Linked DNA regions of Homo sapiens. The protein of the gene in region 1 purifies or fractionates together with the protein of each later gene. This does not show direct contact. Each region holds a gene or a part of one and is shown in the gene's direction. Other genes may lie near its edges.

Region 1 (4,186 bases):
AGGAGGGGCCAGGGCAGGGACCCAGGGCTGGGACCAGATGTAGGGTTTTTCTTTCCGCCTCAGAAGGAGCTGGGAGGGAGAGTCTGGGGAGGGTGGGGGATGGGATGCGGCGGGGCCACGTGCATCGGTTCGCTCAGGGCCACCGGGCCGAAGGCCCCCCCGCGTTGGACAGGCCGGGACGGTTCCTTTGGCTCCAATCACTGCATCCCGCCAGGCTTCGCTCCTCTGCGGTTTCCGGCCTCGGGTCCCAGGCCTGTCCCCGAGGCTCCCCGCCTGACCTCCGTTTCTGTTTCTCCGTCTCCCTGCCATCTCCACTGGGGTCTCGCCCACTCCCACTCGGGTCTCTGCAGGAAGCCGTGCCCTCCTCCCACCCTCTTTGATCTCCCGTTTCAAAGCCGCTCTCCAAGGGAGGGGAGGTCGCTCCTTCCGCCCGTTTTACAGCTCAGGATGGTGACACCTGAGACCCTGCTCCGCCTTCTCCCCCGGCACCCATCCTCCCGCCTATCTAGGTGGTGGCGCAGCTCGCCAGGGCTCCGCGCCTCTGTCCCCGCCTCCCTCCCTTCCCCCTACTGAGACCCCCTCGGGGTCTCGGGAGTGAAGCGACAGAGAAAGCGTTTTAATAAAGACCTTGCGTCAAGTGATTGGCTGTGACCTCTGCCCTCCCAGCCTCGCGCCCTGGGCTCCTGCTTAACCCTTCAATGTCCGCCCAGCGCATTAAGGGGAGCGAGTCGCCTGGCGACTACTTCCAGAGTCCCCAGGCATTACGTGAGCCCGAAGCAGGGTGGAGGGGTGGGGGGACCGTGCCGCCCCCGCCCAGCCTCTCCGAGTTGTTCCAGCAGGGGGCGCCGTTGCCTCACTTAGATCCCTAACCCCCGGAACCCCGCAGCTCCCAAGCCCCTCTCTGAGTACGGAGTGGTCCCACTGGATCCAGTTCAGGGTTCAATGGAGCTAGGGCCAGCTACGGCTCAAGATCTGGGGTCCGCCTGCGGGTGGGGTCGCCAGGTGTCCGGCACCAAGGAGTTGAATGCACCGAGTCAGGTTGGGGATGGGTGGGGAACAGGCGAGACGTGAGGAACTCGGGTGGGGGACAGCCATACACGAGCCCTGAGCATCTGCGCCCGCAGCTAGCTCCCCCCGCCTCTGCGGAGAGCGCGATTCAAGTGCTGGCTTTGCGTCCGCTTCCCCATCCACTTACTAGCGCAGGAGAAGGCTATCTCGGTCCCCAGAGAAGCCTGGACCCACACGCGGGCTAGATCCAGAGGTTGGTGGCGGGGGCGCAGGGCCCCCCAGGTGGGGGGGGGCGGAGCGGGAGGCGGGGCCACTTCAATCCTGGGCAGGGGCGGTTCCGTACAGGGTATAAAAGCTGTCCGCGCGGGAGCCCAGGCCAGCTTTGGGGTTGTCCCTGGACTTGTCTTGGTTCCAGAACCTGACGACCCGGCGACGGCGACGTCTCTTTTGACTAAAAGACAGTGTCCAGTGCTCCAGCCTAGGAGTCTACGGGGACCGCCTCCCGCGCCGCCACCATGCCCAACTTCTCTGGCAACTGGAAAATCATCCGATCGGAAAACTTCGAGGAATTGCTCAAAGTGCTGGGTAAGGAAATGTTCGAGGGCCCAGGTGGGGCAAGGGGGGGCTCTGGAGTCCTCGAAGTTGGGGATGAGAAAGACAGCGGGACCACAATCAGGGCGTGAGACACTGGGTGCCTGCATCCCCGAAAAACGTGCCAGGCGTCCGGGTCCCGGGGCTCTGGGCACGACGCCTAAATCCCGCTTTCTCCTGCGGGGGCCCACCGGTGCCAACACTGCGGTGACTCACGGCCTGTGAATCACGTAGAAACCAGAAGCGCGAGGTTGGCCTCTGGGGGAAGGGGAGGCTGGCCTCAGCGGCCGGACTCGGCGGGCCGAGGCACCTGGCTCTCTGCAGTTCAGAAGCTGCGGGCTGGTGGAGCCACGAACCCTGCATCCAGACTGGGAGCCCGGTTCCCTACCCTGCCCAGCCGCTCGGAGACATTCCAATCTCCTTCCCGGTGCCCCCCTCGGTAACCCAATCCCCAGGGCAGGCTCATTACCCCTCGGCGCCCAGCTCTGCCTGCGAGGTGATCTGCTGCCCCAGCGCCCCCTGAGCCCCACTTTCCTCCCCCTCTGCACTTTCCACTCTGCTCTCCCCACCCCCCATCTGTGAGACAAGTATTTTCATACAGCGAGCAGCTCCAGAGTTCTAAAATCGCTAGGGATAATTATCACTTTCTTGGATTTCAACAAATGGTTTCGTGTGAAACCCCAATCCCACATTTCCAAAAATCTAGGTTCCCACCTACCTCCCCCGACCATAGATCGGCTGCAGCCCAATTGGGTGTGTTGGTCAAAGGTGGGGAAAACTAAGTCAATCCAGACTGCCTTTCCCACTTTTCCAGCCCACCTTCTGTGTGCCCTCTGGGCCAACTGGGCTAGACATCTGGGGCAGGGGAGAGTGCCAGGACCTGGTGACTGGGAGAGGACTCTGGGGGAGAGATGGACGTTAGTTAAGGACCCCAGCCACTGGGAGCGTAAGGGCAGGCCTGCTGCCTTCAATTCCTGCACTCAACAGAGAGACGGTAGTTCGGCTGGGTTGGGCGAGAGGGGAGGGAGGGAAGGCACCCCTCTCCCTGGACTATAGGAGTGAGTCTGGATCTAAGACAGGTCTGGAATGCTGCAGAGAGAGCAGGGATCTCCATCAGTCCTTGCCGTTAGTTCTTCCTGCGATCTAACCACAATACTTCTTGGAGTCATATCAGTCTTTCTTGCTCTGTCCTTGCTAAACTTAAAGACAAAAAGAAATTTTCTCTTTGGAAAGCCTAGATGCCACTCCCTCCTCATCTTCTCTGGATTCTGGCCCCTGTCCTCAGTGGATGAGGTGGTGGTCTGGTACACCCCCAGGCCCCAGCTGAAGAGTAAGATTCAAGGCCCCAATCCTGCTGTCTGTCTTCAGTCTGTTTGTCCTCCCTGCAGGGTCTCTCTGAGCCACGTGCCCTCCTCAGGCCCTGCAGGGGGCAGATTAAAAACAGATCCATTAGACAAACACAGTCCTGAGCCAGCTAAGGCCGGCTAAGCTGGGCCCTCAGCTCCACAGGCACCAGGGGCTCGCTGAAAGGATGTCTCCTCTGAACCCAGCCTTGCCTCTGCAGGAACTTCGGTCCTGGCACACCCCTCTTAGCTCTAGTCAAGGGTCCATCTCAATAAGACTTGGGGACCTGTCATTTCTTCCTAGACACAAGAGTTCAGCAGCCAACAATGGGGGTCCTGGGCTCCCCAGGGGCAAGGCTTCCTCTCTCCCTCTCTCTTCTGTTTGCAGTAGGGTAGGTATGCTTTGGCACTGAGGGGAAAGAGGATTTGTTTCTCTAGGAACCCAGGTCTGGAGGAGGTCCAGGGAGTTGGCCAGATCAGGGGCAGGGAAATCCTGCTACCTGGCAGAGGGCCCTTTCACCCCCGCCTAGTGCATCCCTGGCTCTACTCCAGGACAGGGCGGCAGATCAGGCCAGGTGAGGTGGGTGTGTGGAGCTTAGACCTGGAGCCCATCCAGAGAGGCCCCCTGCTCTGCACGTCTTCCTTTCAGAGGGGTGCTGTCTCCTATCTCCCCCACTTCGGTTAATAACTGGGGAGCAGAGAGAAGGGGTCCAATCTGGGCTGGGATATGGAGGTGCACAGAGAGTCTGAATCCACGAGGCTGAATGAGATAGCCGGACCCTGTGAGGGGAGTGGGGGGTCCTGAAGAAGGGGATACATCACACAGAGCGGGGAGGGCAGTCTCCTTTTCTATTCCTTCTTCTCACAGCAGAGGGGGTTCCCTTGAGGGGACAGGGGTATGGGAGTCTTCCAGAAGGGCAGATGAGTACGGTGCCTAATGCAGAGAGCTTTGAGCCCCAGCTTTTTGCTTTCCTTTTTTTTTTTTTTTTTTTTTTTAGTGGTAGGGTCTCACTGTGTTGCCCAATCTAGTCTCAAACTTCTGGGCTTAAGCAGTCCTGCTGCCTCGGCCTCCCAAAGTGCTGGGATTACAGGCATGAGCCATGGCACCTGACCCTTTGCCTTCCTTTTATCAGTAAAAATAATACCAACAATCATAGCTATTGTTTCCTGAAAACTTAAGCATATGCCTGGCACTGTGTGTGCTAAGTCCTAAACACATACCATCCCAATTGGCTTTTTTTTTT
Region 2 (4,552 bases), on another chromosome or scaffold:
CTGCAAGTATTTCAGGCCAAATCCAACAATTCAGGTTCTGCTCCTTTCCTGTCTCACCTGCTCTGCTCTGAGCAGCAGGACGAGGGAAAATGACCTCAAATATACTTGAAGTTGGGTTTTCTTTGTTATCCAATAAACCATCTCATGAGTTTTTTTGAGTGTTAAGATCCCAGAAAATGTGTGTTCAACTCTTTGGATAGTTATTATAAAAATACTGGAGGAACTTTATTTTATTTTTATAGCTCATAAACTCCTGGGATGGCAGGCATTTCAGCGGGAGTACAATGTGAAGGGTTGATCGCCCAGACTGAGTTATTTACCCAAGTGTTACAGGGAATGTAGATTCAGTGGACCAGTGAATCTTGTCCCACTTGATTGTACACATTGTGACAATGACAGTGTCTGGATGGAAAGATGAAATACTTGCATGTCATTCTATGGCACAATAGCATATGGGTTATGAACAGCAGGACTCACCATGTAACTCTGCAGCAGGACGGTCAGCAAGTGATTTATTGATGGGCTGTGCATTGGGTACGGAGCAGGCAATGTTGCCCCAAAATAACTTTATGGCTTCTCAAGGGTGAAATCCCACCATTATAGGACCATCTTTCTGGATCTATAAAATGCTATATTTAAAACATCCTCTTCTGAGAATAGCTTAAAGCAGGATTGGTACCTGGCGTGGATGTGCAATTGGGGGTCCCAAGGAAGGGGAGAGTGAGGAAGGGCATGAAGCCTTGCCTGGGAAAATCTTCTCCCTCATCACTATTCTTTCTGGGATAGATTTCTATAAATCTTGTGGATTTATAGAAATAGGGTAGGATTGTGGAATAATCTTGCTTCCTTGATTTTGCTATAAGAAAAACAAAATAAGATAATATTTGCAAAATGCTTTCTGATAGAAGGAAATATATTAAATTCACCAAGTCTCCCTTTCCTCTCTCTGGGCCTCCAAACTTTTTAAATATAGTTCTTGCTGGTTTCATTATTCCTATTTTCCAGATTGAAAGCCCACCCATGGAAACAGAATGTAGTTCTCTGTAGAGCTGACATTGGGTTTGCATTGAGACTGAATGCACTGAACTAAGAGGAGGTTTGGCTCTTCTCCATCAGAACCACTGTTGTTATTGAACCTTGACAGGAAAAATATTTATAGATTCCTTTGGTGCTTAGGATATTAAACTATTTGTATCCTGTCATTCCTTTTCTCTAAAAATGCCTTTTTATTTTCTTGTTTGTATAGGGAGCTGTGGTCATGGTGGTGTGGTGAACATCAGCAAACCGTCTGTGGTTCAGCTCAACTGGAGAGGGTTTTCTTATCTATATGGTGCTTGGGGTAGGGATTACTCTCCCCAGCATCCAAACAAAGGACTGTATTGGGTGGCGCCATTGAATACAGATGGGAGACTGTTGGAGTATTATAGACTGTACAACACACTGGATGATTTGCTATTGTATATAAATGCTCGAGAGTTGCGGATCACCTATGGCCAAGGTAGTGGTACAGCAGTTTACAACAACAACATGTACGTCAACATGTACAACACCGGGAATATTGCCAGAGTTAACCTGACCACCAACACGATTGCTGTGACTCAAACTCTCCCTAATGCTGCCTATAATAACCGCTTTTCATATGCTAATGTTGCTTGGCAAGATATTGACTTTGCTGTGGATGAGAATGGATTGTGGGTTATTTATTCAACTGAAGCCAGCACTGGTAACATGGTGATTAGTAAACTCAATGACACCACACTTCAGGTGCTAAACACTTGGTATACCAAGCAGTATAAACCATCTGCTTCTAACGCCTTCATGGTATGTGGGGTTCTGTATGCCACCCGTACTATGAACACCAGAACAGAAGAGATTTTTTACTATTATGACACAAACACAGGGAAAGAGGGCAAACTAGACATTGTAATGCATAAGATGCAGGAAAAAGTGCAGAGCATTAACTATAACCCTTTTGACCAGAAACTTTATGTCTATAACGATGGTTACCTTCTGAATTATGATCTTTCTGTCTTGCAGAAGCCCCAGTAAGCTGTTTAGGAGTTAGGGTGAAAGAGAAAATGTTTGTTGAAAAAATAGTCTTCTCCACTTACTTAGATATCTGCAGGGGTGTCTAAAAGTGTGTTCATTTTGCAGCAATGTTTAGGTGCATAGTTCTACCACACTAGAGATCTAGGACATTTGTCTTGATTTGGTGAGTTCTCTTGGGAATCATCTGCCTCTTCAGGCGCATTTTGCAATAAAGTCTGTCTAGGGTGGGATTGTCAGAGGTCTAGGGGCACTGTGGGCCTAGTGAAGCCTACTGTGAGGAGGCTTCACTAGAAGCCTTAAATTAGGAATTAAGGAACTTAAAACTCAGTATGGCGTCTAGGGATTCTTTGTACAGGAAATATTGCCCAATGACTAGTCCTCATCCATGTAGCACCACTAATTCTTCCATGCCTGGAAGAAACCTGGGGACTTAGTTAGGTAGATTAATATCTGGAGCTCCTCGAGGGACCAAATCTCCAACTTTTTTTTCCCCTCACTAGCACCTGGAATGATGCTTTGTATGTGGCAGATAAGTAAATTTGGCATGCTTATATATTCTACATCTGTAAAGTGCTGAGTTTTATGGAGAGAGGCCTTTTTATGCATTAAATTGTACATGGCAAATAAATCCCAGAAGGATCTGTAGATGAGGCACCTGCTTTTTCTTTTCTCTCATTGTCCACCTTACTAAAAGTCAGTAGAATCTTCTACCTCATAACTTCCTTCCAAAGGCAGCTCAGAAGATTAGAACCAGACTTACTAACCAATTCCACCCCCCACCAACCCCCTTCTACTGCCTACTTTAAAAAAATTAATAGTTTTCTATGGAACTGATCTAAGATTAGAAAAATTAATTTTCTTTAATTTCATTATGAACTTTTATTTACATGACTCTAAGACTATAAGAAAATCTGATGGCAGTGACAAAGTGCTAGCATTTATTGTTATCTAATAAAGACCTTGGAGCATATGTGCAACTTATGAGTGTATCAGTTGTTGCATGTAATTTTTGCCTTTGTTTAAGCCTGGAACTTGTAAGAAAATGAAAATTTAATTTTTTTTTCTAGGACGAGCTATAGAAAAGCTATTGAGAGTATCTAGTTAATCAGTGCAGTAGTTGGAAACCTTGCTGGTGTATGTGATGTGCTTCTGTGCTTTTGAATGACTTTATCATCTAGTCTTTGTCTATTTTTCCTTTGATGTTCAAGTCCTAGTCTATAGGATTGGCAGTTTAAATGCTTTACTCCCCCTTTTAAAATAAATGATTAAAATGTGCTTTGAAAAAAGTCATCTTTTGTTTTATTTAATTTTAATTTTTTTTTAAAGCTCTTAACAGGGTAGTCCATATCTTGCTATGAGGTTGGGAGAATGGCTACCTCCCAAACACTAGTGCGGGGAGATTGCACACCTAACAACAGATCACATCAATAACTTTTATAAGAGCCCAGAGTTAGGCTGGCTCTTTCATTTTTCTTTCCCTTTAAAATCCACTCTTTCTGGCAGCTTTTATTGTACATGACTGCCCTATTATCTTTTGGGATATGACCTTATGTACTTATTAATTTGCATGACTGATCTGATTATTTCCAATGCTAGACTACATTTATGTAGCTTATGTTCCTTTTCCAATTGAGCTATGAACATGGATCAGAAGCCTCTGGATCTTCCCCAGACAGGAGGACTTGGGCAGAAAGCAAAAGGACTAACTGGCTATACCAGGAAGAGAAGTACCTTTACCAAAGAGAATATGTAAGAAGACAGGTGACCTAGAGCTGGAAGGACACAGTGGACTGATGTAGTTAGTCTTACTGAAATGCTCATTTTGGATCCTTGCCAAACTTTTTGAGACAGATGGCAGCTATAATATTTAGTATTTTAGTAAGATTTTTCCCTATCTCTTCAGGGCTGAGTGTAGAGACAGGTATGCCCTTCAAAATGCAACAAGATATGAAGATAAAGACATGTATGTCATGTGAGATACAAGTTAAAAACCAGGATGTTATATTTAATCTGGCTCTAGGCAGTTTTCCAGATCAATGTTTTGTACCAAGTACACAGTATGACCTCTGAAGATTCAGGAAAGGAGGCAGGAAGCCAAGGTAACCCTAGCAATCAGCTTCTTATTTGAACTGCTACAGAAGCATTTGCCTGAAAAAATTCACTTCCCAGCCTCTTTCTCACTGGACGTGGTGTATCAGCCTGCAGTGGCTGCCTGCAGGAAATCTCCCTGCAGGGAAGGTTGAAGGACTCAGGGATTCAGGCTCCTGGGTTTACCGCAGTGCAGTTACACAATGGGAAATTTAGCTCCAGATTCATCAGCTACTGCCTGTTTTGAAATTTACATATATATATTATAAACATAAATTACATAAGGTATAATTCACATGTGGTAAAACTTGCCAGTTTTAAGTGCACAATTCAATGAGTTTTGACAAGTGTATAGTCATGTAAAGGCTACCACAATTAGGACATAAAACACTTCCATCCTCCCTGAAATGTTCTC
Region 3 (4,679 bases), on another chromosome or scaffold:
CGGAGAGGGGTCTGGGCTGGTTCGTGGCCTGTGCCCTCAGATTCCTTCCTCACCCATTCCCTGCTCTGCTGTCTTCCTGTGGAGTGGAAGCTGACCCATTCGGCCTGTTTCCCAGGCCAGATGTCAGCCGGCGCCCAGCTACGTTTGCTCAGTGGGAGTCTCTACTGGGAGATAAAAAGGGAGAAACCAGAGTATTTCTCCTCCTTCTCCACCCCATCAGATCCATACTACTAGGAGCTTCTCTGTGGCTTTGGCTTCCGCTACACAGGCCACCATGATTCTAGCTTCTACCCAGTAACCTAGGTATCTGAACTTAGGTAACAGGTAATTCTCCCTCTGTGTCTCCTAGGGTGCTTACTAACCTCTAGGTTGCCTCTCTGTCCCCTGCTGGCATCTCAGCCCCTCTGTTATCTGTGCAACCAATCCCTTGCATCGAAGTGCTTCTGCTCTAAATACTCTAGTAGTTTCTGTTTCCTGTTTGACTCTTATTGATACAGTGTCACTTGCCGTTAATTTGGGGCCTCTGGGATAAGGAGAACTCCCTAATAAGCATCTTCTCTCAGTGTTTGATGGGAATATGGGGCCATATGGGATATTGGTACCAGGCTAAAGCAAATCATTTAACCCAAATGAACCTGTTTCTACAGCTATAAAATGAGTATAAAAATATCTTTTCCATCTATTTCCAGAGTTACTATAAGTATTAAATTCTTTAAAACCATGAAAACATTTTGTAAAGTAGTATACATACCCTACAAATATAGTAATAGCATTATATCAGTGCTCATCTCAGCTTCATTCTTTCTAGCTGTGTGGTCACAGGCCAACTTAGCCCCTCTGAAGCTAATTGTGGAAGAAAATAATAGTTCATATATTAATAGATTGTTTTGAAGTTCAAATGAGATAACCAATTATAAAACTGTTCAATGTTAGTACTTGGTTGGAGATGGTAATGGTTAGCTTTACTGTAGTTTTACAGTAAAGTTTGGGTAAATTACTTAACATCCCGTGAGCCCTTGAATTCCTCAACTCTAAGATGAGAATAACAATGCCAATGTGAAATTAATTAATTATGCATAGATACTTGTAAACCTTTTTTTTTTTAAATATACAAACATAAAGGTATTATTTTTGAAGAGAACCTCTCCCTGAAATTATATTTTATCCTGGAAACAGCCTGGGTCAGAAACTATTGTCCACTCTCCTGGGCAAATGATGGCATACCATATTCCCCACATAGCATGGGCTTCAGGCTCACCAGATGTTGGGGACTGATTCCAAGTACTTGGCAGGGAGGCCAGTGCTGCCGCAGACCTTATCAGGTGCCTTCTTAATTGCTCAGGGAGGGAGGAGGGTAGACAGCTCTCTGTGTTGGATTGGGTGGGCCTTTGGATGCTCACAGCAGAACTGATATTAGTAACTGACATCCTTAATCAGATTTGTGTCCGGCCTGTGCACACAGGTTAGGACCTGATAGCCTGGCTTTGAGTCCTGGCTCCACTATTCACCCGCTGCAGTTTGGGCATGTTACTTAACCTCTTGTTCCCCAGTTTCATCTGAAAATGAAGATTAAAGCCCTAACTTCTTCACAGGGTTATTGGAGAAATTGAATGAATGAATCCACGTAAAGCATTTAAAATAACACCAGACAAATAGAAAGTACTCTGTTAGGTTAATTGTTATGATCAGTATTTTCTTGTAATGAGAAAGCAGGTTTCCAACATTAGCATGTATACCCACTACATGAAGTGGCAAGAAAAAAACTGACCTTTCAAAGGACTTACAAATCCCATAGCCAGAGGCATTCTTGTTAAACCTTTGTCTGGGACTTGAACTTGACCAAGGTTCCCACTGAATGTTGAAAATTGGTTTTTGTAGCCACAGGCCAAAATCTCCATCTAGGAACTGATTGGGAGCATAGACTAATGGAGATGGGGTGAAGGAGGGCTACTATTGTGTTCCATGTCACAAGCAAATGCACTAAAGATGTTAAATTTTAAGAATCAAGACTGTATTAACTTAGCTGCCTTATTCTCTACAGCAGTAGAGAATTCTGGTTAAATACATTTAAATAGAGCTCCCTGGAGAACTAGAATAGTTTTACAAATCCATCTCTTAAGCCTGAATTTTCACAGTGGTCCCGTGGTTCAAATGAGTGGTTATGGATACAGATGCTATGAAAACAAGTGATCCCTGCACTAGAACTGGTTTAATACATTGTGGCCCAGCTTTTCTCCAGGAGATCCTATTAGACGAGGTCCTCATCTCTCTGCCCATCTATTATGGCTCTTGTATTCCTTGTCATTAGAGTAAAACTAGGTTTTACTCTGCATATCTCCTTTCTCACAAATATTTGTAGAGTGCCTACAATATGCAAGGCGTGGTACATCTAGGTACAGAGAGATACAGCGGTGAACAAGAGAAACAGTCCTTACCCTGTGGGGCTTGTGGGTGGAGGTGGGAGTTTAACACATCATTTAATTGTAATTACAATAAGTATTGTGTTATGAAGGTACAGCGTGGGTAAGAATATCACAGGGAACCTATTTTAAGTCAGGATCCTCTCTGAGGAAGTAACTTTTAGGTTGGAGCCTGTTAGATGAATAGGGAGACACCAGGCAAAGGCAGGAGGAGAATGCTCCAGGGAGAGGGAGCAGCAGACACAGAGGCCCTGGCGTGGAAATGACCATGGCATCAAAGGAAACAGCAGAAAGCTGCAGAGCAGGTGCTGTGAGTGTGGCTGGCAACGTAGGTAGAAGCTCAGTGGTGCCTGCATCATCAAGGGCAGGTTAAGAACTTGATGAATGAATGCCTTTAGGCAGCAGATTAATTAACACAGTTAGATTGGTGTAGAGTGCCCTATATATGCTCTCTGGACAATCCCAACCTCATTCACAGCTCTAGTCTCCCCTTATGCTAATGACTCCCAAATTTACGCCTCTATGCCAGTCCCCTGCTGAGCTCCAGACCTGTGTGCCCAACTACCCAATGGACAGTTTGCTCATCTGTATCAGGAGGAGATGAACTGATGGACACATGAGACCCCTTCCAGCTCTAGAGTTATCTGACTTTAGGGGTTCCTAGAAAGGAGGGATCACTCAGGAGGAGGAGGTGGTGAAGTTGAGCCAAGCCTTGAAGGATGATAGGTGTATCATGGGGGACTTGGCTCTCCAAGTCAAGCTGGAGTCCCTTCTTGGCAGCCTTTCTTTCCTTGCTGTGGACTTTGTGCCTGGAGAACAGGCCAAGAGCACAGGTTGCTCGTGCCATTTTATAGATCTCTTTTCTGCTGCAGAGACCCTCCATTCAAGACCCAGACATACTTGCAAAATCCTATGTTTAGGTCACAAATGTCAGTTGAACTAATTTAGAGTAGATGAACTGGCTTGCTATCAAATCACCATCACTGGACTAATGGTTACAAAATCCAACTCCCACAACAGCCTCTGAGTTCTTCTGAGATCTGGCCCCTGCCAGAACACCTTTTTTGTGTCCTGCTTGACAGTCTTTGCTCCAGCCACAACTATTTGTAATATTTGTACTCACAGTCATCATACTGTTCTTGACCCCTCCTCGTTTACTCTTATGGTACCCACTACCTGGAATATCCTCCCCAAATGATCAGAGCATTTACTGCATTGTACAATAATTTGTGTAATACTCCTCACCATCCTCCTGATTATCCCTATCATATTAATCTCCAAATCTGTACCACCTGGCAAAGGTTTTCGACAATGTTTATTCCATGAATTAATAAAGTAGTGACTGAACGTCCGGTTGGGTGATCTGTGACCACCTCAAAGTCAGCTTGACCTCCCCAAACATGTTATCACATACACCCATGCCCCATAAACTAACCTAAGTGGTCCTTTCCTGTGTTCCCATACTGCCCTGGCACTCCTTGCCCCCTAAAAATATCATTAGATGATAACATTCTGTTTTCCTGGCATCTTCCCTTATAGCACCTGTAACAATGTTCAGCACATGGTAGATACTCAGTAGTTGTTGGTTAAATGAATAAAAGAAGAAAAAGACCAAAGGAAAGAGCCAGTTAGCTCTTTCTCCAGTGAGATCTTGTTTTTGGTCTTCCCATTTGTAAAAGAAGTAACTGCGTAAAATGACTTCTGATACCTCTATTCTGAATTTGATATGGGCATACAACTGTCCGCCCAAAGTATCTAACACAGTGGCTAAAGAGAGAGGTTACAGACTGGGCAACATTGCAAGACCCCATCTGAAAGAGAGAGAGAGAGAGAGAGAGAGAGAGAGAGGAAAAGAAAAAAAAAAAAAGCAAAGACACTTTGGAAGGCTGACATAGGTGGATCGCATGAGCTCAGAAGTTTGAGACCAGCTTGGGCAACGTGGTGAAACCCTGTCTCTACAAAAGAAGACAGAGAAAACAAAATACAAAAAAAATTAGCTGGGCATGGTGGCACACACCTGTAGTCCCAGCTACTTAGGAGGATGAGGTGGGAGGATCACGTGAGCCCAGGAGGCTGAAGTTACAGTGAGCCAAGATTGTACCACTGCACTCCAGCTTGAGCAACCATGAGACCCTGTAAGAAAGAGAAAGAAAGAGAGAGAGAGAGAGGAAGGAAGGAAGGAAGGAAGGGAGGGAGGGAGGGAGGGAGGGGGAAACGAAAGAAAAAAAGAAAGACAGAGAGAGGAAAGAAAGGAGGATA
Region 4 (4,679 bases), on another chromosome or scaffold:
TAATCCCAGCACTTTGGGAGGCCAAGGTGGGCAGATCACCTGAGGTCAGGAGTTCAAGACCAGCCTGGCCAAGATGCCGAAACCCCATCTCTACTAAAAATACAAAATTAGCAGGTCATGGTGGCACATGCCTGTAATCCCAGCTACTCGGGAGGCTGAGGCAGGAGAATCGCTTGAACTCGGGAGGTGGAGGTTGTGGTGAGCTGAGATCGCGCCATTGCACTCCAGCCTGGGCAGCAGAGTGAGACTCTATCTCAAAAAAAAAAAAATTATACTGAAAGTCCACATCATTTACTTTTTTTTTTCTCTCTCTTTTTTTGAGACAGTCTTGCTCTGTGACCCCAGCTGGAGTGCAATGGCACAATCTTGGCTCATTGCAACCTCTGCCTCCTGGGTTCAAGCAATTCTCGTGTCTCAGCCTCCGAAGTAGCTGGGATTACAGGCACGTGCCACTGTGCCTGGCTAATTTTTATATTTTTAGTAGAGATGGGGTTTCACCATGTTGGCCAGGCTGGTCTCAAACTCCTGACCTCAGGTGATCCTTCCACCTTGGCCTCCTAAAGTGCTGGGATTACAGGTGTAAGCCACCATGCCCGGCCTTTGTTTTTTTTTTTTTTTTTGGTGGCATCTTGCTGTCATCCAGGCTGGAGTGCAGTGGTGTAATTATAGCTCACTGCAGCCTTCAACTCCTGGGCTGAAGTGATCCTCCTGCATCAGCCTCTCAAGTAGCTGGGACCATAGATTTGAGCCACCATGCTGTCTAATTAAAAACAATTTTTGTTTGTTTTTTTTAGAGATGGGGGGGGTCTCATTTTGCTGCCCAGGCTGGTCTCGAACTCCTGGCTTCAAGCAATCCTTTTGCCTTGGCCTGCGAAGTACTGGGATTACAGGCGTGAGCCATTGTACTCAGCCCAATCACTTGCATTTTTGAGGTGGGCTATAACCGAATGCTAAGGTTGTCAGGAGGGCCCAGGACATTCCAGATTGAGGATGGAACAGGTTGGGCAAAAGCACTGAAAAGTGAAAGTGGAAAGTATTTTAGGAGACTCCAATAACTCCTTGGTTTGAAGCAGTGTGCTATCATAATACAGCACTGGAAGATGAGTCAACAGTAACTTGATATCTGATTGTAGAAGGCCTTGAATGCCCAGGTGAAGATTCTGGACTGTAATCGAAATAGGGAGCCACTGAAGGTTCTAGAGCAGTGGAATTCTAGCAAAGGATGATTTATCTGATGTGGGTGTGGAGGGTTCTTTAAGTGGAGAAAATACCAGAGACAGGGATAACACTAAAAGGCTTGTATATTAGTTTGTGCCAGAAGTAATTCATTATTCATTTAATGTTCACTGTAACCCTGTGAGGTAAATATTATCTCCAGTATGTGGATAAGGTAACTGAAGTTTAGTGAGAAAAATTAATTTACCCAAGGTCACAGGGACACTCAGTGGTGGAGCTTGGGTTTAAAAGTAGGTCTGGCTGTTTCCAAAGCTCTGTTTTCTGTCCATTAAACATACTGAAGAGTTAAATATATGAGGGGTACATAGGACCAAGAAGAGGAGAGTGATAGTCATTCACGGGGTAGGACTCAGGACCAGGTGCATAATTTGCAGGGCTCGGTGCAAAAATGATTGAGAGTTTCAAGATAGTGACAACAGAGCATTAGCCTAAGCACAGGGCCCCTCTGAGAGCGGGGAACTTGTGACTTCACAGGACGCACACCCATGAAGCCAGCCCTTACATGGTTGGTTTTCCAATTACTATGGCAGTGTAACAAACCACCTCAAAATGTAATGGCTTAAAAGGATAATGGGCCCAGCATGGTAGCTCATGCCTATAATCCCAGCACTTTGGAAAGCCGAGGCAGGAGGATTGCTTGAGCCTGGGGGTTTCCAATCAGCCTGGGCAACATGTGAGACCCTGTCACACACACACACACACAAAAAGATAACGTTGATGTTGACTTTGCACATGAGTGCAGGCTGTGGAGACAAGCACATTTCTACTGCATTCAGTGTTGGCTGGGGCAGCTCAGAGGCTGGGGGTTAGAATTATCCGGAGCTTGGCTCTCTCCCCTGTCTGGTTGTTGGGCTGGGAAGATTTGAGCTGGAGGCTTCTCAGGCATCTGTTTCTAGGTGGGTTCTCCACACTCTCTCTTCCGTAGGGTGGTTTCGGGGAGACCAGGCTCCTTCCATGGTGGCTCAAGGTTCCAGAGGTGCACATCTGTGTGTCAAGTGAAGGGGAGAACCAGAACCAGGCATAAGCTAGGTCACTTTTATTACTTGGACTTGGAAGTCATGTAAGCACCATTTCAGCAACTCATTAGAAGCCAGTCACTAAGTCCAGATCATATACAAGGGGAGGCGAGTTAGACTCCAAGTTTTGTGGGAAGGAATGTCAAAGAATGTGTAGACAGGTTTTTAAAGCTACCACAGTGGCCTAATGAGTGAGAGGATGAGTGGATCTGAGGGGTGCTTCCCCTTTATGCCTGAACGGCTCCCCCCAGAGTCATCCTTTGGAGTTCACAGACATCCTCCTTTAAAAGGCATCTGAGGGCCGGGTGTGGTGGCTCACACCTATAATCCCAGCACTTTGGGAGGCTGAGGCAGGCGGATCACGAGGTCAAGAGATCGAGACCATCCTGGCCAACATGGTGAAACCCCGTCTCTACTAAAAATACAAAAATTAGCTGGGTGTGGTGGCGTGCACCTGTAGTCCCAGCTACTTGGGAGGCTGAGGCAGGAGAATTGGTTGAACCTGGGAGACGGAGGTTGCAGTGAGCCGAGATCACGCCACTGCACTCCAGCCTGGTGACAGAGCGAGACTCTGTCTCAAAAAAAAAAAAAAAAAAAAAAAGGCACCTGCTAGTATGTAAGAACACGTGAAGGCTGGATGATGAGTTTTGACAGCTCTGAGGGATTTAAATGACTCCAGTGCCTCCTGTCGGCCTGGGTCCTAGCAGTAAACAGATAGGGTGGAGAAAGCAATTTGAGAGGAGCCAGGTGGGAAGGGGGTGTGTGAAGCCACTGTGGGGCCGTGCAGATGAACTCTTGGAAGGAAAAAGGCCTTATTGTAGATCAGGCACTGCACTTTACACATCTTGTCTCATTAATTAAACCCTCACCACAGCCCTGCCAGAGGTGCTCTCGTCAGCCCCGCATTACAGATGGAGAACCTGAAGCACAGAAAAGCCGCACAGCTAGTGGGCTGCGGAGCCCAGATTTGAACACAGGCAGCCTGAGGTCAGGGCCCATACCCCCCAACTTTGGGCCGTACCACCTATTCCATAGCAATTCTGTGTTTTTCTTGCGTTAACATTTGTATCTTTTCCTACTTACATATTTGCAAGCTTTAGGGGGAAAAAGAAAAAGTAATTCGACCTTAAGAGATCAGCTTAGTGATAAGAGAGTGCCTCACATATGGCAGGTGTTCAATAAATATTAAAGAAATGAATATTTATCCTTATTGTACAAACTTATATCTAACTTGCCTTCCCTACGGATGCTTGCCCTCTGGTCTTTGTCATGTGGCAGCTGTTGGTGCTTTCCATGGTATTCTCTGTGGCACCCAGGCCAGGGAGCCAGAACTTCTGGCATTCTCCTGGTCAACTGGCTCTCTCAGCCATTAGGCACCCCTCCTTCCACCTTAGAGACTGGAACCCTCAGCTGACCTCAGCCCCCTTCTTCAAACCAGCAGCACTCTAGATACAAAGAACTGGGAGAGGCAGCCCTCTCTCTGCCCATTCACCCAGACCCTCCTTCAGCTGCTGCTTCCTGACCTCCCAGGCACCCTGTAGGCAGGGCCTTCTCTCTAACCTTCCTGGAAACAAGGCACTCATCTCTGCGGCTCCTGGACCCCATTCAGTACCCATAGGGTTTCTAGGGAGATTTCTGTCTTCTACTTCCTGCTGAGGCCCAGGTGGTGGAACCCCACCCTTCTGGGGACCCGGGAAGCCTCCACACACTAGCGGCAATTCCTTCAGTTCTCTGTCACTTGTCTCCTCGAACGTGATTTGTGGTATATTTCATGACACAGAAGTTTAAACTTTTGATATACTCAAATCTGCTCATTTTTTCCTTTTAAACTTTCTGAGTTGATGTATTATATTTAATGGTTCTATCACATAATATGGTTTGTTCAGCCATTGCCTAAATGTTAGACATTCAGGTTGCTTACATTTGTTTGACTAATATTAATAGCACAGCTATACATATCTTTGTAATTTCTTTTCCATTTATATTCTTTTATGTAATCCCCAAGACGATATTGTTGGGTCAGAGTTTTAGGAAATTAATACACATTTCCAGACTGCTCTCTAAAAACATTTCAGGTTTATAGTTCCAGAAGCAGTAAAGGTTAATACTCACTGATTCAGTTTCCTTAGTGATTGTAAGACTATCAAAGCTTATTTCTTTTTGCATCAGTTTTGCTATTAAGTTTTTCTAGGAAATTGGCCATATCCTCTAAGTTTTCAAATCTCTGCTGTTTCTTTAGTTATGTCCCTATTTTCCTTCTTAATATTGTTTGTGCCTTTTCTATTTGTTCTTTTAGTCTTTGGTTTATTTTTTTCTGAAATGGGGTCTCACTCTGTCACCCAGGCTGGAGTACAGCAGCACAATCACAGCTCACTGCAGTCTCAACCTCCTGGGCTCAAGTCATCCTTCACCTCAGCTTCCCAAGTA
Region 5 (4,679 bases), on another chromosome or scaffold:
TTGTCCATGCCAAAAAAAGAATGGGCTTTGTCCTGAGATCAGTAAAGAGCCAGAGGTGAGTGCACTGCCAGATTTATATTTGGGTTAAGAAAACATTCAAAACTTGGAAACAGGGAACGTGTCAAGGTGAAGCAAGAGACACCTAGGGTACAAACTTGAAAGAAGTGCTCGCTCTCAGGGTCCTGCACTATTTGTGTGACTCCAAAAATGAATATGTCCTTAAATTTTTTACCCTGGGCAACTTTTATGTCTCACTCTGGTCCTGGCCCTGCTTGGAAGTAGAGTTTGAGAAGGAATTCGTTGTCTTCACAATATCATTGCTTAAAAGATTCACCAGATAATCATTTAATGATATACAAGAATGTGTCTGCACTTGGCTTTTCTATTCACTATTTAATTATAGCCCAAACACTGTGAAGTTAGACATTAACTTCGAAATTTCTGTCTGATTTCCAACATTAGAAAAGATAGCCTCAAAGATTATACTTTTATGGCCCTATAGGACATTAACCAGTTTTTATGTTTTTATTTTTTTAATTTTTGAGATGGAGTCTCGCTCTGTCGCCCAGGCTGGAGTACAGTGGCACGAACTCAGCTCCCTGCAACCTCCGCCTCCTGGGTTCGAGTGATACTCCTGCCTCAGCCTCCTGAGTAGCTGGGATTATAGGCACGCACCACCACACTTGGCTCATTTTTGTATTTTTAGTAGAGATGGGGTTTCATCATGTTATCATGTTGCCCAGGTTGGTCTCGAACTTCCGACCTCAGGTGACCCGCCCACCTTGGTCTCCCAAAGTGCTGGGATTACAGGTGTGAGCCACCGTGCCCGGCGGAGTTTTGTATCTATTAGCAAATATATTTCAGCAGTCCATTGACTATATACGTTTTTCTTTTTTCTTTCTTTTTTTGAGACAGAGTCTCACTCTGTCGCCCAGGCTGGAGTGCAGTGGCGTGATCTCGGTTCACTGCAACCTCTGCCTCCCGGGTTCAAGTAATTCTCCTGCCTCAGCCTCCCGAGTAGCTGGGACTACAGGCGCATGCTACCATGCTGGGCTAATTTTTTGTATCTTAGTAGAGACCGGGTTTCACCATGTTGCCCAGGCTGGTCTCGAACTCCTGAGCTCAGGCAATCCGCCTGCCTCGGCCTCCCAAAGTGCTGGGATTATAGGCGTGAGCCACTGCGCCTGGCCAAATGTTTTTTTGAGCCAGCCTTACCATCTTACTGGTTCCCTCATTAATGAGTGAGTTGAATAAAATCTTGGGTATGTGTTAATTCTATATTTGTATGAAAGTCAAGTTTTTTAAAGTTTTCTAAATTATACTTTAAGAATATACTAAATTACACAGCTAATAATTTCAACAATTTCCTCACAGCAGCAAGAGTAATCTTCTTGCACCCGTTAAGAAATTGAATTGGTGTGGGATGGGTCTAGGAAAGAAGTTTAAAATAGGGATTAGTTTGTAAGCGATTGAAATTATCCTAACTAGTTTCAAAGTTCATGTTCCTGGGGAGGGCATGGAGGAGATAGAACATTGAGTAACATTTTCGATGCTTTATAGCCACTCCCTAATTCCATTTTTCACAAAAACCTGTGGAATTTCGTAGTTATTTCTCCATTTTATAGCTGAGGAATTTAAGGCTCAGAGATGTTAAATAACATCTTCAGAGTGGTGGACCCCACATTTGAACCCAAAACATCCCCCTTCCTGTCTTCATTCTGGAGCTTCTTTTACCAGGTGAATGGTGTGACAGCAGACTGGCACACTCCACTGTTTAATGCTTGTGTCAGCGGCAGCTGGGATTGTGTGAATTTGCTTCTGCAGCACGGAGCCAGCGTTCAACCTGAGAGTGATCTGGCATCCCCCATCCATGAAGCTGCTAGGAGAGGTAAATCTGTTGAGAATTTTTTTTTCTACCCACTCCTTCAAGGGACATCTTACTGCTGAAAGAAAGAAAGAAAAGGAGATATATTTTAGAGCAGTAGTTCTCAAAATGGAGTCCCAGGACTGGAAGCATCAGCATGACCTGGCCTGCAAATGCAGATTCTTCGGCCTCACTCCAGCCCCATTGAATCAGTAACTGGGGATGGGGCTCAGCCCTCTGTATTTTGTTTAATAAGCCCTCCAGCTGCTTTCTGGTACACAGTAAGTTTGAGTGCCTCCCTTTTAGAGCATTTTGAATGTTTTTCACTGCTGTATTACTGAAACAGGGCTTGGCACATAGTAGACTATCCATCAATATTTGTGGAATCCGTTGTTATACCCGTGACCTTATAGAAATCAAGTTATTTCATAAAACAAATTATATTCTTCTATTTCAGGGCCTTAAAGAACATTGTCTCAGTGACACTTAAGTTTGCCAAATGAAATAAGCTTTCAATTTTTGAAAGTATTTGATGTTGCATACAGTTTGGGATAATTCTTTTCATTAAAGCCATAATTTTTCTGATAGTCTTAGCTCATAAAATCACAAGTTTTTATTTTCTCCAATATTTAGCATCATCGTAATGACCATACCTTGCCAGAGGGCTTTCTGTTTCTCCAGTGGCTTTCATAGAATGGCTTCCCATTTGACTGGACCAACCCACTCATAATGATCTCCCAAAGCATTAATATTATTTATTGAGAACATCTTAACTCATCATATTCGCTGCATACATAGAACTAAAATACAGCAAGAGAAACGTAGAGGAGCAATGTCAAAAATATGACATCCTGGACCAAGGAAGTGTGATTCAGCTTTCACCTAGTTTTTCAGATTGGGCCCTGCTCATGTTGGATTTGGCAGTTTCTTCTAAGCATTGCCTATACCCGCTGTGGCCTGTTCCTCCCGGGCCTGCCTTTGGAGAGGTTGTAAGTTTCCTTCCCTGTCCCGTGGCCCACACTGTGCCCTTTATTCTTCAGTTCCACCTTCAGGTCCTGTTCCTCCATATCTCTCCCAAGCTCTCACTTCAATTTCTGTACTTAGACAAACTACAAAGCCACAGACAATTGAAAAAGGTGGATAGTTGCTGGTTGGTTACCGTGGCTAGTAAACTCAAATGGAGTTTCACCCGTAGTTGCAGATTGCATCCTATGGTCAAACCATTAACTGATAGCAGTGGTTAAAATCACTCCTGATTTGGCCGGGCCTGGTCTCACGCCTGTAATCCCAGCATTTTGGGAGGCTGAGGCGGGCGGACCACGAGGTCAGGAGATTGAGACCATCCTGGCTAACACGGTGAAACCCCATCTCTACTAAAAATACAAAAAAGTTAGCAGGGTGTGGTGGCGGGCGCCTGTAGTACCAGCTACTCGGAGGCTGAGGCAGGAGAATGGCGTGAACCCAGGAGGCGGAGCTTGCAGTAAGCCGAGATTGCGCCACTGCACTCCAGCCTGGGGGACAGAGCGAGACTCCGTTTCTAAAATAAAATAAAATGAAATAAAATAAAATCACTCCTGATTCTAATTGAAGGAAATAGCTTTTTGGTCCCCTGGATAAGCTGCTGCCAAATTTAATGCAAAATGGGGATGGCAATGTCTTTCTAGCTAAGGGAACTTGTATTGTAACTGTTTTTCTTCCTGCTTTGGGCTGCAGGCCACGTGGAGTGTGTCAACTCTCTTATAGCTTATGGGGGCAACATTGACCATAAGATCAGCCACCTGGGCACTCCACTCTATTTGGCTTGTGAAAACCAACAGAGAGCCTGTGTCAAGAAGCTTCTGGAGTCAGGTAAAGCAAAAAGCAAACCAAAACAAGAAAAGAAAACGAAAAGTAAATTAAATGTATTTTAAACATCTTACTGCTGTAGGAGAGAAATTAGTGTGGGCAATGGAGTTGGACAAGGTCAGGGTTCATATTGACTGTGTTCCCTTGGGGAATTATTTCACACTGTTTGAACTGTAGTTCTCTCATTTGTAACAAGGATGAGGAGGAGGAGGAGGAGGAGGAGGATGATGATGATGATGATGCCTCTTCTCAGGGTGGTCCTCAATGATTATTAGTTTCTCCTCCCTTTCCTCTGTCTCCCTCCATTTGGCCAGTCACATTATTAAGCCCTGCATAACTTGCAAAGCTGTTGGATTAGTGTTGAATCTTCCTATTTGGGACCTTAACCAGTTCTCTTTGATTAGATATTGAACTTGCCCCATTGCAAATATTATATTTTCCTTGAAAAGGCCTATGTACCCTTATTTCTTTTCACCTCCCTGCTGTTGTCCAGCCCCCTTCTCAACACCTGGAACACCATTTCATCACCTCTTTAATTATCTGAGTCCTATTTATTCTTTAAGGCTTCAGTAATCTGTTTCCCAATGAATGTTGTTGCAGTCCTTATTGCCTCCTACTCATCTGGCAGGCATTGCTATGAATTAAGAGATGCAATCTCTGTCTCTCCCCCACTGCCCACCCCACCTCTGCCACTCTGGGCAGATTTTAAGCCTCTAGCCTGGAAAGGGCCATGTTTGATATCCCTCACAAAGTCAGGAACAATACAAGACCAGATCAGTTAACATTTGTTGAGTGGACATAGATTTTCATTTTACCAGAGGGATGGCAGCTCAGGCAAAGCCACATGTTCCCACATGTCACAGTGAAAGCTAGGCTCTGGGCTGGGGTGGGGATTTGTTAAGAGTGTAAGAGTGGAATTGGGTGGGGACAGTCCTAGAAATCCACCTTACTCCTGAAAGGGAGAACTTTG
Region 6 (4,679 bases), on another chromosome or scaffold:
AAAAAGAGAGATTGTATGGGCCACAGAGGCTAAAATATTGACTGCTGACCTCTTACAGAAAAAGTTTGCCTACCCTTGCTTTGGAGTATTAAATTAAATGGTTCTCTAAACTGTGTCTGGTGGTGCATGCCTGTAATCTCAACTACTCAGGAGGCTGAGGTGGGAGGATCCCTTGAGCCCAGGAGTCTGAGACCAGCCTGGGTAACATAGCAAGACCCCATCTCAAAAAAAAAAAAAAAAAAGAGGTTTGAAAGACTAAGAGTAACTCCTAGAAGTACCAGAGTTATTCTTAGGGAAGACGACATTGAGAACATCTGACATGAGCTTTATTAATTTGAGGGTTTGTCTAAGAAATAAAACTTGAAGTGTGATGGAAGGGAGGGGATAGGGTATCTTCCATTTCTCTTTAGGCCGAGAAATAATAACAGCCTTTTGACAGATATAAATGTCTTTTCAAGATATATTCATGTTACTACTAATCATTTACTGTATTATTATTAATATCAGCTTTGTGTTTAAACTTAACATAATTTAAACAAAGTAGGCCAGCCACAGTAGCTCATGCTTGTAATCCCAGCACTTTAGGAGGCTGAGGCAGGTGGATCACTTGAGGTCAGGAGTTCGAGACCAGCCTGGCCGACATGGTGAAACGCCGTCTCTACTAAAACTACAAAAAAATTAGCTGGGCATGGTGGCGTGTGCCTGTAGTCCCAGCTGCTGGGGAGGCTGAGGCAGGAGAATGGGGTGAACCCAGAGCCGAAATCATGCCACTGCACTCCAGCCTGGGTGACAGAGCAGAGCAAGACTCTGTCTCAAAAAAAAAAAAAAAAAAAGGAAAATAGTGAAATCTATATTGTAGAGTTGTAATGAGGGTTAATAGAGTAGACCTAGTAATGTTTAGTGACAACATCAAGTGCCCATTAAATGTAGCTATTTTATCCCACTTGGTTTTCCTAAATCCTAGACTTTGGAGCATTGCTGAAGGTATTTTCTGGGCATCCCTATTTAATTAATTTGTGTATTTGTTTGTTTGGCCTTCATAAATGAGATGAGACTCACCAGTCAATTTCTGTATGTTGTGCTAATTGGAATATGCTGATTGGGGATCACCTGCTCCTTTTGCAGAAATTGCCCTGTCTTTTCCATCTCTGCTCACTGAAATAACCTTCTTCTTTTCCTTTATAGATATATGTAATCGACAGTGCAGACAGAAAAAGATTTGAAGAGACGGGTCAGGTAAATAATTCTTTTTTATATCAAAGTTCTTATATATATATATGTATGTACTTTTTTTTTTTTGAGACGGAGTTTTTGCTCTTGTTGCCCAGGCTAGAGTGCAATGGCATGATCTCGGCTCACCCCAACCTCCGCCTCCCAGGTTCAAGCAATTCTCCTGCCTCAGCCTCCCGAGTAGCTGGAATTAGCATGCACCACCACGCCTGGCTAATTTTGTATTTTTAGTAGAGAGAGGGTTTCACCACATTGGTCAGGCTGGTCTTGAACTCCCGACCTCAGGTGATCTTCCCGCCTCAGCCTCACAAGGTGCTGGGATTACAGGCGTGAGCCACCACGCCCAGCCTAGTATATTTTTTAAATACTAATTCTTCTGTTGAGATAGTTCCCAAATAACTGGGTATTCATTAATCAACCTTGTAAATGTGTGAGAGTGAGGGAGGTTTTTGTTTTGTTTTGTTTGTTAACCTTTACAGTTCAAACAAGACAGTTATTCTAGCAAGCAGGCAAAAATACCAGTTGTCTGAAATTAGTTGAGAGTTCTTTAAACAGTTTTTTTTTCCCCCCTCCAAAACGGAGTTTCACTCTTGTCACCCAGGCTGGAGTGCAATGGCACAATTTCAGCTCACTGCAACTTCAACCTCCCAGGTTCAAGTGATTCTCCTGCCTCAGCCTCCCAAGTAGCTGGGATTACAGGCGTGCGCCACCACGCCCGGCTAATTTTTTTGTATTTTTAGTAGAGACAGGGTTTCACCATGTTGACCAGGCTGGTCTTGAACTCTTGACCTCAGATGATCCACCCACCTCAGCCTCCCAAAGTGCTGGGATTACAGGCGTGAGCCTCCATGCCCAGCCTAAACAGTTTTCTAATTAAAGCTTTTTAGCTTTAATCAAATTGAATATATGAGATACAGACAAGTGGAACTTAGCACCATGCCCAAAGGCTCTTCAGGTTTTTTCCCAGGCCATGTGAAAACGAACCCAGAGGAACAAGTCACTTCTCATTTTTATTTACATTTTTCAATACCTACTTAATTGATTCAGGGGTAACTTTGACAAATCTGAAAGGACAGGAAAAAATGCACATGCCAAGGGCTGGGTGCGGTGGCTCGCGCCTGTAATCCCAGCCCTTTGGGAGGCTGAGGTGGGCAGATCACTTGCAGTCAGGAGATCAAGACCATCCTGGCTAACACAGTGAAACCCTGTCTCTACTAAAAACACAAAAAATTAGCCAGGTGTGGTGGCACGTGCCTGTACAGTCCCAGCTACTCTGGAGGCTGAGGCAGGAGAATCACTTGAACCCACTGCAGAGGTTGCACTGAGCCGAGATTGTGTCACTGCACTCCAGCCTGGGTGACAGAGTGAGACTCCCTCTCAAAAAAAAAAAAAAAAAAAAGTTTTTTAAAAAGTTATCATTGCAGAGTCCTTGGCCTGTGTCCTAAATGACCACAGGTGGCCTTCCAAAGGTAGCAGTTCTCATGTTTATGTCCCTTTTTTTGAAATTGAGTTGAGAACTCTCCAGACTTCTGGAAACAACCCACCACCCTTCCATACCCTGATGATTTCTGGATTATCACTCATGTGAAATGAGCTTGGAGGTGGAGGGGGTCCTATGTAGTCATCTGCCTCTTGATCCATACAGTTCTCTTTGAAAGCCCATGTGTTTTAAGTAGCTAAAATGTGGATTTAATGAGGAAAAGGTGGGGCCTATCATTTAAGTACATATACACCCTTTCCTATAGTTTTTGTAAACAAAATCACATATAGTTTAGACCCCAACCTATAACCTAAATATCAGGGACCTTGCCAGATGGACCAATAAAGTTATTTTAGGATGTAGGTTTGATGAAATGTGAAGCATGTGCATGCATGTTTTAGAGATAGAGATTGATGAAACAGAATTATCTCTAAAGTAATTGTCATTTTCAGTTTAAATTTCATACACACACACACATACACACACACACACGCATTGAAAGTTATTTGCAGGTAATAACCTTGGGTAAGTTTTGAATCTCAAACCACTTCTTGTCTTCTCCCTTGAATGATTTTCTCAAAAGTGTTCTATGGGCCAGGTGTGATGGCTCATCGCTATAATTCTAGCACTTTGTTAGGCTGAGGCAGGAGGATCCCTTGAGCCCAGGAGTTCAAGACCAGCGTGGGCAATATATCAAAACCCTGTCTCTACAAAAAAAAATTTTTTTTTTCCAGGCAGAATCTCACTCTGTCACCCTGGCTGGAGTGCAGTGGCATGATCTTAGCTCACTGCAACCTTTGCCTCCTGGGTTCAAGCAATTCTCCTGTCTCAGCCTCCCAAGTAGTTGGGACTACATGTGCCCACCACCATGCACAGCTAATTTTTGTATTTTTAATAGAGACAGGGTTTCACCATATTGGTCAGACTGGTCTCGAACTCCGCCCACCTCAGCCTCCCAAAATGCTGGGATTACATGGGTGAGCCACCGCGCCTGGCCAAAAAAAATTTTTTTTTAATTAGCTGGGCATGGTGGCAATCACCTGAGGTCCCAGCTAGCTGATCAGGAGGCTAAGTTAAGCATTGCTTGAGCCCAGGAGGTTGAGCCTGCAGTAAGCTGTGATCGCACCACTGCACTCCAGCCTGGATGACAGAGTGAGATATTGTCTCAAAAAAAAAAAGTGATCTGTGAATCATCTGTAGCGGAATCACTTCAGGAGTTTGCTAAAAATGTGGATTCCTATGCCGGGCGCGGTGGCTCACGCCTGTAATCCCAGCACTTTGGGAGGCCAAGGTGGGGGGTGGATCACAAGGTCAGGAGTTCAAGACTAGCCTGGCCAAGATGGTGAAACCCCGTCTCTACTAAAAATACAAAAAAAATTAGCGAGGCATGGTGGTGGGCGCCTGTAATCCCAGCCACTTGGGAGGCTGAGGCAGAGAATTGCTTGAACCCGGGAGGCGGAGGTTGCAGTGAGCCGAGATCGCGCCACTGCACTCCAGCCTGGGCAACAGAGCAAGACTCGTCTCAAAAAAAAAAAAAAAAAAAAAAAAAAAAGTAAATTCCTGAGCCCTAGCTCAGACTTTCCAAAGTCAGCATCTCTGGGTTGGGCCCAGGAATCTGCCAGGGGAATCTTATACAGGTTCAAGTTTGATAATCAGACTGAGCACGGCGGCTCACACCGTAATCCCAGCACTTTGGGAGGCCAAGGCGGGCAGATCACTTGAGGCCAGGAGTTCAAGACCAGCCTGACCAACATGGTGAAAACCCATCTCTACTAAAAATACAGAAATTAGCTGGGCATGGTAGTGTGCACCTGCAGTCCCAGCTACTCAGGAGGCTGAGGGGTGAGAATTGCTTGAACCTGGGAGGTGAAAGGTTGCAGTGAGCCGGGATTGCGCCACTGCACTCCAGCCTGGGCGACAGAGCGAGACCCTGTCTCAAAAAAAAAAAAAAAGAAAGAAAAAAAAAAGT
Region 7 (3,959 bases), on another chromosome or scaffold:
TTTGTTTTGTTTTATTTTGTTTTTTTTAAAAAATTGCTGCAAAGTTCTGGTTAGCTGCTCTGCACCCTTTTCTGTACTGGTCATTAAGGTCCAAGCTTGCTTTCTGACAAGTAGGTTATGGCTTATACTCCCTTATACTTCATTACGGATAAAAATAAAGAGTCTGCCAGTGGAAAGGTTCAGTCTGCTGATGTACAGCCATTGAAGGAAGACTGACTTACACTCTGCAAGGATATTTTGGCTATGCAAGGGCTTCCTGGGTTTTTGCCTCTGACTTACCTAGGAATTGTTTCCAACCACTTCCTCTTTCATGCTTTTTACATATATGCTTTTTGTGATAACAGTTTGTGTCTTTTTTTTCCCTGGGATTTCTGATAACACATAAATCCAGAGAATGAATCTGTGCTATAGAATTCTTCTATTTTCCTCCTTTCCTCTCTCTACCCTTTACCCCCGACTTTCTGTTCTTTGCTCTCTTCCTTCCCTTCTTTCCCCTTTGCCTTCTCCTTTCTGTCTCTCTTTTCCTCCTTGAGCTTTCTGTCCTTAGTATTATGATTCCACTGGGGCAGTTTGGCAAGGATATTCTTTGACCTGTCAGTGAAACTTTACACAACCTTGAATTTTACACTCTTGTTTAGTGGTATTAAAATGTTCATGATGGCAGCAGTAGTGGTGGTTCTCTTATCATCCAGGGAGTCTCCTGACACAGAGAGAGCTCTTTTAGCACCAGTCATTTCTAGACAAGGGAACTGTTAATTATAGGAAGGACTCATATGCTATAGGTCAGATGTTTGGGTGCAGTAAAAAGAAATTAAGAACCATCATTTTAATTCTTATAGTAGTTTTAATCCAATTAAACAATTTATATGAAATTTGATAGTAAATTACTAATGTAATGTTCTAGCAGCTACAATTATATCTGTAGTACAGCTAATGGAGCTTTAAAATATTACGCTCCCCTCGATTTTTAAAACATGAAGAGCTACAAAATGCCAGGGGTGCCAGGCATAAGTATTAATATGCATCACGATCTCATGTATTATCAGTTAAACTACAGAGGGGGAAAAGTGGACAGAGGCACCTTTTAAAAAATCTCAGTAGTAGAAATAGAAATAAAAGTTTAATAAATTTAGAAGTCACAAGCAGCCCTCATTTGAGTCAATGAATGAGTAAGACATGAAGCACAAACCTGCCAGGAGTGTTCAGGAAATAGCAGCAACTAAATGTCCAGATGTTCAGTGATGGGCACGTAGTAACAACCATTCCTTTTCTCTCTCTCATCTCATGTTTTACAGTCATTTGCCTTGATGACTTTCCTGTTCTGGGCACATATATGTCATAACTTTGGCTACCTGTTCCCTTTTACTCGTTCTACTCCATTTTACTAATATTAAGAATAATCATATTGACTTTGTGGTATGCCTGGTCTTGAAATCCATCCCCATCACTGAACTTGATGGTATGGCTGGGAACCACGGTTTCAGTAGAGGACACTAATTATTGCATCCCAGCATAGTGTTACTCTTCTGAAATAGTGTTCATTCTCATGCTTATTTCTTGATTTGCCTTTATCTTTTTGTTCAAGCGTCTCGCTCGAACCGGGATCATAGTGACCACGAGTGAGGCTGTTCTGCTTCAGCTGGTAGCTGATAAGGACCATCCAAAATTCAAGGAAATTCAGAATCTAATTAAGGCGAGTGCTCCAGAGTCGGGTCTGCTTTCCAAAGTATAGGACATTTGAAGAACTGGTATGCTACTCACTGGTGAAGGACAGTCAGGTGAAGGACTGTAAGCCCACACAAGCTCTTCTTATCTCTACTAGAATTAAAATGTTAAGTCAAAAACGGCTCCTTTTTTGCGCCTCCTAGTGAAACTTAACCAGCTAGACCATTTGAGTACCAGCATTTAGTTACAAACGTCAAAGGCTTCCGGTGCTGCTTACCTTCCTTTTTTGTTAATGTGCTTTTATTTATTAAAAAAAATTACAATGAAGATGCCTGTTTTGTCTCTACTGTGTACTCTGATCGTATCTTTCCAAAGTGCAGACTCTTGTGAAGTTTTCTTAAATTGTTCACTTTAAAGAAAATGACGTACCAACAATGATTTGGCTTTTATATTACTGTAAGATGTTATAATGTTAATGTGGATGTAGTGCTTTTACTTTACAGATTGATTGGAATAAGATTATTGCATATGAATTTACCCACAGGACTCTGAATCATGTTACCCACTCCCCTCACAATGTTGTCCACTTAGTGAGTTGCATTGATCTATCCGTACCAAATGATGTTGAATAATTACATATCTTTCTTGACTATACTGATTTCTTATTTTGGTCACTATTACTAAATCTCTGTTAATATTCTCTCTTTTAACTGAAAAGGGATGGGATAGAAGGGTTTGCAATGCCATATTATTGGTGGAGGGCTGTTTTAACATCTTTGAAGTATGGCTTGCTGAATATCTTTACCAACATCTTGAATATATATTCTAGTGTCCACAAGATTTAGCAAAAAGATAAAGCTTGGGTGGAATATCATTTTAAAATGTTCATGTTCTGTTCTATATTTTCTTCACCTACTCTCCAAATATTGTAATGCAAAAAGTCTCAGTAATGATTTGGTAGTATTAATTTTGTGGTCATTGTTTCTCTTCGATAAATTTATTTTCATTAAATACTTGTTAGAGGGTTTTGAAATGTTTTTCAAATATGTGAAATGTGAAACTGCTGTCTTTTATATTAAAGTAATTAAAGAAAATGTATTGTGATTGAAATTATTTTGTCCTCCACAAGATGGCTCTATGAGTATTCTTCCAGGGATTCTAATATTTATTTAAGGTAATAAAATCTTGACATTTATAATCTTTCAACTCATGGGAGTTTTCAAAGAAGGAAAATCCTTTGTACGTAGGGGCAGATGGATTTTACTAAAGGGTGAAAGGCCTTCTTCATTAAGAGCAGATTTTTTTTATTTTTCCTATTGGCAGTGGTAACAAATAGCAACCTGGTGTGTTTAAATACTTTTTTCCAACCATTTGTGTGTCAAAAAAGAAGAATCAAAGATTTCTGCACCTTTAAAAAGTTTTTATTAAATTTAACCTAGTGCTTCTCAAACTTTAATATGAATGCAAATTATTTGAGGATCTTGTTAAAATGCTGATGCTGACTCAGTAGGTCTGTTGTGCAGCCTGAGGTGACATTTTGCATTTCCAAGGTGACATTTCGCATTTCCAAAAATTGGGCATTTTCCACCAGTGCTGTTCAGAAAGGACCATATTTGAAATAGCGAGAATTTAACTCCAGACAACTGTTTTCCTCCACTGCACCCAAACCTTTCAGGGCTCAGTGAAATACCAGTACAGTGAAGCCTTTTCACAGGTGAAACTAATTCTGTGACGTCAGCTTCGTTTCCCCTGCCTTCCATAACAAACTATTATACCACAAACAGTGTCGTAAAACAACGGCACAAGTGTATTCTCGCAGTTCTGTAGGTTAGAATTCTGAAATGAGTCTTAGTGGGCTAAGATCAAGGTATCAGCAGGGCCGTGTTCTTTTCCGGAGGCTGTACGGAAGAAACTGTTTCCTTGCTGCTCTGTGCTTCTAGCATTCACCCATGTTTTTTTTTTGTTTTTTTTTTTTTTGGTTTTTTTTTTGGCTTTTTTGACCCCATTTCTACCTCTTCTAAGCCAATGAAGGTGTATCTGTTTTTTCTTATGTCACATCTGTCTGACTCACTCTTCTGTCTTTCTCATTCTGACTTAAGAGCTCATGTGCTTTAAGGTCATCTGATCAGAACCTTATTCCATCTGCAACCTAAGTTTTCTTTTGCTGTGTAACAACATATTCACAGGTTCCAGGGTTTACAACATTAACATCTCTGGTGGCCACTCTGTATAACACAGACACCGCCATGTGATTTAGTATTTTATTTCATTTTGTCATTTGTCATATTTCCATC

What was found.
Region 2: the proteins of CRABP2 (region 1) and OLFM4 purify together in Homo sapiens (co-immunoprecipitation; one large-scale study listed by IntAct). This does not show direct contact.
Region 3: the proteins of CRABP2 (region 1) and HEBP1 fractionate together in Homo sapiens (co-fractionation; one large-scale study listed by BioGRID). This does not show direct contact.
Region 4: the proteins of CRABP2 (region 1) and CGREF1 purify together in Homo sapiens (co-immunoprecipitation; one large-scale study listed by IntAct). This does not show direct contact.
Region 5: the proteins of CRABP2 (region 1) and ASB9 purify together in Homo sapiens (co-immunoprecipitation; one large-scale study listed by IntAct). This does not show direct contact.
Region 6: the proteins of CRABP2 (region 1) and ARL3 fractionate together in Homo sapiens (co-fractionation; one large-scale study listed by BioGRID). This does not show direct contact.
Region 7: the proteins of CRABP2 (region 1) and ISOC1 fractionate together in Homo sapiens (co-fractionation; one large-scale study listed by BioGRID). This does not show direct contact.

What each region holds. Positions count from the first base shown.
Region 1 is NC_000001.11:156,702,784-156,706,969, reverse strand, and holds the start of CRABP2 (cellular retinoic acid-binding protein 2), read left to right. Parts: upstream 1-1,386; 5' UTR 1,387-1,523; coding exon 1,524-1,593; intron 1,594-4,186. UniProt on the Homo sapiens protein: Transports retinoic acid to the nucleus. Regulates the access of retinoic acid to the nuclear retinoic acid receptors.
Region 2 is NC_000013.11:53,048,723-53,053,274, forward strand, and holds the end of OLFM4 (olfactomedin-4 precursor), read left to right. Parts: intron 1-1,246; coding exon 1,247-2,049; 3' UTR 2,050-3,335; downstream 3,336-4,552. UniProt on the Homo sapiens protein: May promote proliferation of pancreatic cancer cells by favoring the transition from the S to G2/M phase. In myeloid leukemic cell lines, inhibits cell growth and induces cell differentiation and apoptosis.
Region 3 is NC_000012.12:12,993,076-12,997,754, reverse strand, and holds part of HEBP1 (heme-binding protein 1), read left to right. Parts: intron 1-4,679.
Region 4 is NC_000002.12:27,112,165-27,116,843, reverse strand, and holds part of CGREF1 (cell growth regulator with EF hand domain protein 1 isoform a precursor), read left to right. Parts: exon of another isoform or gene 1-2,220; intron 2,221-4,679. UniProt on the Homo sapiens protein: Mediates cell-cell adhesion in a calcium-dependent manner. Able to inhibit growth in several cell lines.
Region 5 is NC_000023.11:15,249,463-15,254,141, reverse strand, and holds part of ASB9 (ankyrin repeat and SOCS box protein 9), read left to right. Parts: intron 1-1,737; coding exon 1,738-1,888; intron 1,889-3,577; coding exon 3,578-3,712; intron 3,713-4,679. UniProt on the Homo sapiens protein: Substrate-recognition component of a cullin-5-RING E3 ubiquitin-protein ligase complex (ECS complex, also named CRL5 complex), which mediates the ubiquitination and subsequent proteasomal degradation of target proteins.
Region 6 is NC_000010.11:102,686,450-102,691,128, reverse strand, and holds part of ARL3 (ADP-ribosylation factor-like protein 3), read left to right. Parts: intron 1-1,185; coding exon 1,186-1,236; intron 1,237-4,679. UniProt on the Homo sapiens protein: Small GTP-binding protein which cycles between an inactive GDP-bound and an active GTP-bound form, and the rate of cycling is regulated by guanine nucleotide exchange factors (GEF) and GTPase-activating proteins (GAP).
Region 7 is NC_000005.10:129,111,270-129,115,228, forward strand, and holds the end of ISOC1 (isochorismatase domain-containing protein 1), read left to right. Parts: intron 1-1,585; coding exon 1,586-1,732; 3' UTR 1,733-2,759; downstream 2,760-3,959.